Linked DNA regions of Homo sapiens: region 1 is linked to region 2. The links come from fine-mapping of genetic effects on gene expression. Tissue or cell type: whole blood. Region 2 holds a variant in brackets; the other region holds the start of a gene. All regions are shown on one strand. Distances are between the middles of the regions.

Region 1 (2,619 bases), 41 kb after region 2:
AGCCAGTGCCACCTCCCACCTTCCTCCTCGGTCAAGATGTCAGATGGGGGCAGATGGGCCATGTGTCCATCAGGGGCGGCTCTGAGGAAGGATGAACGCCCACCTTCCCCGCAGCCTCAGGGCACAGGGGCCGAAGGCAGGAGAGGCCCCCTTTGGAGGAAGAGTTCCCCCCAGACCCTTCCATGAAATACAAGTTCTCTGAGCCTCAGTTTTCCTTCTCTAAAAAATGGTTTATCTTATCTTACCAAACCATGGAGACAGTAAAACAAAAATGGGGTTATCCTATGTTACCAGACCAGGAGACAGTCAAAAACAGGCAAAGGGTGCACAGTCCCTTGTACGCCCGTTGCTACTGTGGGAGTGACGTTCATATTGAATAGGAGCCCTAGGGTTTCTGCTGTCTCCATTTTCCTGCGGCCCCCGGAGACTTCATTTGCCTTGCTCGATTACCAGCCCAGACCTCCCTCGCTTGCCCTGTCCCCAGAGGCCGCAGAAAACAGACTCTGCAGTAGCCCCCGGACGCATCGGAGGAAGCAGACAGGCAGCTCGCCCTCCAGCTGTGCCCTCAGTGGACCTGACACACACCTGGTCCTGCTCTTCAGACACAGGACCCTGGTATTTCTAAGAAATCGGAAAACCGTCGCCCAGAGGAAAAGGAAGTCTTTTGAAGAGGGTGCCCGGCGTGGGCAGTGGGGCAGCGCCCCGGCACAGCCCCTTCTCCACCGCGTGGGAGGGAAGGGCTGTCGCGGCAGTCGCCGGGGTGAGGGAAGAGGGGTCCCGGGTCTAGCGGGGGTCTGCCCAGGACCCGCTGCTCAGCCCCAAATGCCCCGGCCTGCGCTCGCGGAGGAACCAGGGTGCGCCCCTGTCACGACGCGGGTAAGAGGGGCTTCGGGGGCCAGAGTTGTGCCCCGAGCGCACGTGTGCCGGGCCCGGAGTCCCCAGCGGGTCCCCAGAGGCGCGCGTGTCTGATGCGGATGGGGGGCGGCGACTGGGACTCCCAGCCTCCCAGCCCGTGACAGCGCCCCGGGAGAGCGCGGCCCGGGCACCCGAAGGCTGCGCACCAGCCGGGTGGACATGCGGGGCGGCTGTCCCCCGTGGGCCGCGCGAGTCACCCACCTGGGCGGGCAAGGCGTGCGCCGCAGCCCAGAGCTCCAGTCCGACGGCCAGCGCGGCCCAGACGGCGACGGGCGCCATGGGTGCGGGCGGGGTCCGGTTGCCCCCTGCCCTCGCGCCCTCGCGCCCTCGCAGCCCAGCGCCTTCTCTCCAGGCTCCGCTGCGCTCGCTAGCCCTCGACTGAAAGCGAAAGCCCGCGCCCCAGCGGGCCAGAGGCCAGGCGGCGGGGCGGGGCGGGGCCAGCCGGCCTTGGACACGCCTCCCCCACGCCCCTCCCCAGACGCTGCTGGGCCTCCGACCCGACCACTCCAGCATCGCTGGGCCGATACCTCCAGCGTCACTCCCAGCACTCGGGTGACCCCTCAACCTCCTCCTATCGTCCCCTCCTCTTCGAATCACCATCTCCACCTGCCCGGCCTCCACCTGCCCGGCCTCCACCTGCCCTCCCAGCTCCCACAGGCTTCCCTGTCCCGTGAGGGTGAGGCACTAATTTGGAAAAACATCCCCCAAAGCTGACAGCTGCTTTAGGGGAACCAAGAGAATTCTAGATCATTCACTTATTTAGACTCTATTTTAAATATATTTAATTCTTATTTTTTAATTTTTTTTGAGACAAGGTCTCACTCTTTCACCCATAGCTCACTGCAGCCTCCAACTCCTGCGCTCAAGCGATCCTCCCACCTCAGCCTCCCGAGTAGCTGGGACTACAGGCTCGGGCCACCATGCTAGGCTGATTTCTTTATAGAGATGGGGTTTCGCCATGTTGTCCAGGCTGGTCTCGAACTCCTGAGCTCACGTGTTCTTCCCACCCTCAAGTGATCTTCCCGCCTCTGGCCTCCCAAGGTGCTGGGATTATAGGTGTGAGCCACTGCACTCGGCCTGTTTAGACTCTAGAGCCAGACCACCTGGGTCTGGATCTCTGAACTGACCTCATAGGACTATTCTAAAAATTTAAAGATATGTAATATACATAATGCAGTCTGTACTTTATATATACTTAAGTAAGTATCTACATATATAACAATAGGCATTTATAAATCTTGGCTGTTGTTACTACTCTTCGCGTGTTCATTTATCCTTAAACACGCATCCAGCCTTCTCACAGGGAGAAGACTCTGCACTTCCCTGCTCAAGTCTCCTGCCCAGGCAGGGGGCAGATGAACAGAGGCTGGGAGAGAATGTCACCAGGGAAGCTGCAGGGCCCTGAGGGGCTGCTGAGACCAGGCCCAGGAGAGCTGGCTTCCCCAGGATTTACATCATGACCGAGCACCCATTCCAGCTGCAATCTGTCCCCCCATCCCCACTTTGAGTGCCAGCCCTAATACAGGGCCAGCCCTGCGGGGCCAGAGCACATTCCTCCAGCCCTGGATTACGGGGGTCCTAGCCCCCAGCACATAGGGCATTTCTAAGGGTTGGGGTGGGCTGGGTGGCAGGAGGCTATTCTGTTCCCTGTTTCCTCACTGCAGGCTGCCTGAAGAGGTACAGAGACCCTTGCTCCCGGCCACC
Region 2 (2,738 bases):
CAAGGGAACCAAGGCCCCACAGAGTCTCCAAATTCATCGCTTCCCGGCTCTGCCCTGTGATGCCAAGGAAGCCTGAGGTTCTCCCAGGACTGTCCACCAGGGGGCAGGTGCGCTCCATCATGTCCTCATGTGGGTCCAATGTGGGCAGAAACCTGGCCAGTCCCAGCAGTCTGACTTTTTTTTTCTTTAAGAGACAGGGTCTCACTCTGTTGCTCAGGCTGGAGTGTAGTGGCGCGATCATAGCTCGCTGCAGCCTCAAACTCCTGGGCTCCAGTGATCCTCCCCTCAGCCTCCTGAGTACAGGTGCACGTCACTGCAGCCAGCCAGTCTGACATCTTGATTCCAGGGTGGAAAACCCTTCTTGTCTCCATGGTAATGGCTGGGCTCTCCCACCCTCCAATAGTTCAGCTGCCAAGCTCAAGTCCAGTGGAATTTATCAACAATTTATCACCCTGCCCCTGCTCTGCTAGACAATTTCATGCCTTCTCCTTTATCCCCATGCTCCTGAGACTGAGCCTTTCCAGGAGCCCCTCAACCTGCTTCCTCCCAGAATCCGGGCAAGGCTACACTGGTTTCCCCTCTGCAGGGCCCTGGCCCTGGGAGGGGGAAGGCTGACTCTAATGGGGAGGAATCCCAGCTTCAGTGGCTTCAAGGCAGGCCATTCAACTTACCGACCTTGGCTACACACACCCACGACACGCAACACAGACGCAGACACAAGACTGGCACTTGGGATCACACTGGCCATGTACCAAAGTGGCAGGGCAGCCCGTTTGGGGCCCAGGAATTGAAGGTGGGGAGTGGGGAAGAGGAACCCACCCCTCTGGGGGAGGAGGAGGGTCTAGGCTGAGGTAGGAGTAGAGAGATGGCTACGAGGACTCAGTCATCTCTAGTTCCTGAAATTCCCTGAAAGGAGATGGTGTGGCCTAGGACAGCAAGGAAGGAGGCGCGGGGCTGCAGGCACACCGGAGTGAAGGCGGAGGGTGCAAATGGCAGGTGGGGGGTTGGATGTGGCTGGCAGAGTTTGGCTTTGTCGTTGGCTTGTTGGCCTGAGTGGTACTTACTTTTTTAAAAAATTGGCAGATTTCTAGTTAGAAGTGCGTTATCTTGCCCAGGCCACAGCACTGAATATGGTGGCCTGCCTGGGCCCTCTGGGCATCTGACTTTCACACCATGGTACAAAAGGACAAGTTGGCATTTGGAGGCGGTGCTTTTTTTTTTCTTTTGAGACAGACTCTCGCTCTGTCGCCCAGGCTGGAGTGCAGTGGCGTGATCTCGGCTCCCTGCAACCTCCGCTTCCCGGGTTCAAACGATTTCCCAGCCTCAGGCTTCTGAGTAGCTGGGACTATAGGTGCCCGCCACCACGCCCGGCTAATTTCTGTATTTTTAGTAGAGATGGGGTTTTACCATGTTGGCCAGGCTGGTCTCGAACTCCTAACCTCAGGTGATCCACCCGCCTCAGCCTCCCAAAGTGCTGGGATCATAGGCGTGAGCCACTGCACCTGGCCTGAGGTGATGCTTTCCAAGCCTCCTGAGCTAACTTGAAGGACCCCGTTCCCTACAGGGCTGCCACCTCCTCCCTGCACAGAGCCCCAGGACCATCCCGCAGTCTCAGCCTCAGGCTGAAGCACTGTCCTGTCTTCATGGGTGACTCAGGCAGCATCCCTCCTCTCCAGAAAGCCCCTCTGCAGAAAAGGATGCTGGGGTTTTCTGGAAGCCAGAGCTGGG[G/T]CAGAGCCCAGGGGGAGAAACAAACAAACAAACAAACAAACAAACAAAAAACCCAAGGGCTCCAGAAGCCAGGCTGGCAGGTGCAGCTGGGCGGGGCAGGTCACAGAGAGTCAGGGACTTGCCCCAGCATGCCCCGAACGTCCATGCCCAGCCAGCCTTCCGAGAGGGACACGCCATGGCAGCAGAGGCTTTCCACAACTCGCTGCCTCTGCTCTTGGCCTGCAGGTCAGAGGGAGGCTGCGGCTGTGGAGGGCACTAGAGGAACTTGGCCCAGAAAGAGCCTCAGAGTCCTAGTGGTGGGGGCCTGGAAGGACCAGGGCCCCTTCGCAGGGTCATCCTGCCAGGGCTCAGCCCACCTTGGCTACGACACAGCCCACACCGGCCTGGTTAACTGGGCTTCATCCCAGCATCAGGCACTCCAAGGGGCAGGGGCTTCTCTTCGGTGCTCCCCAGCAGGGTCTCTGGCGTCTCCAGCTGTGACCGAAAGGCACATTCCTCCTTGGAGAAGGGGACCTGCTCGTCCTTCGGGGACTCCGAGGGGCTGGAATCTGTGTCTCCCATTGTGGAGCTGGCTTGGGAGGAGCACTGTGAGCTGTGGTCAGAGCTGCTACAGACGTTCACGATGCAGGTGACATTGACCTGGGTCCCATGGCCACCAGGGGAAGAATCTGCTAAGCACAAGATGGGGTGGGGGTCAGTCCGGGGGTCCAGGAGTGGGGCCCAGGGACCCCTGCCCAAGATGCAGATTCAGACACATGGGAAAGAGCACTGGGCCAGGAGCCGAGACCAAGATTCTAGCCCAGCTCTGCTGTGTGACCTTGAGCAAGTCACTTAACCTGCATGTGCCTCATTTTCCCCTCTGCCGAATAAGAATAGCATCACTACCTACCCAGCCCCAATCACCCCAGAGATGGGAGGAGCCAATTATATAAAACAGATGTCTACTTGGGAGGCCAAGTTTGTAGGATCGCTTGAGCCCAGGAGTTCAAGACCAGACTGGGCAACATAGT

Evidence for each region. PIP is the estimated chance that this variant, and not a neighbour inherited with it, causes the effect.
Region 1: it holds the start of TNFRSF1B, and the variant in region 2 is fine-mapped to the expression of TNFRSF1B in whole blood (TOPMed, PIP above 0.99).

The regions. Positions count from the first base shown.
Region 1 is chr1:12,165,667-12,168,285 of GRCh38, reverse strand. It overlaps TNFRSF1B (TNF receptor superfamily member 1B), which reads right to left and starts at 1,295. Exons shown (of 10, transcript NM_001066.3): 1 at 1,117-1,295. The coding sequence starts at 1,194. MIR7846 (microRNA 7846) reads right to left here and starts at 1,343; the gene lies at 1,248-1,343. RefSeq lists an enhancer at 228-869 and silencers at 910-1,139, 1,150-1,459.
Region 2 is chr1:12,206,398-12,209,135 of GRCh38, reverse strand. It overlaps TNFRSF1B (TNF receptor superfamily member 1B), which reads right to left. Exons shown (of 10, transcript NM_001066.3): 10 at 1-2,396. The coding sequence ends at 2,116. Among named protein-coding and RNA genes, the nearest start is that of MIR4632, 16 kb to the right of the region's middle. RefSeq lists an enhancer at 1,646-2,146. The variant G/T (reference allele first, on the strand shown) is at 1,729.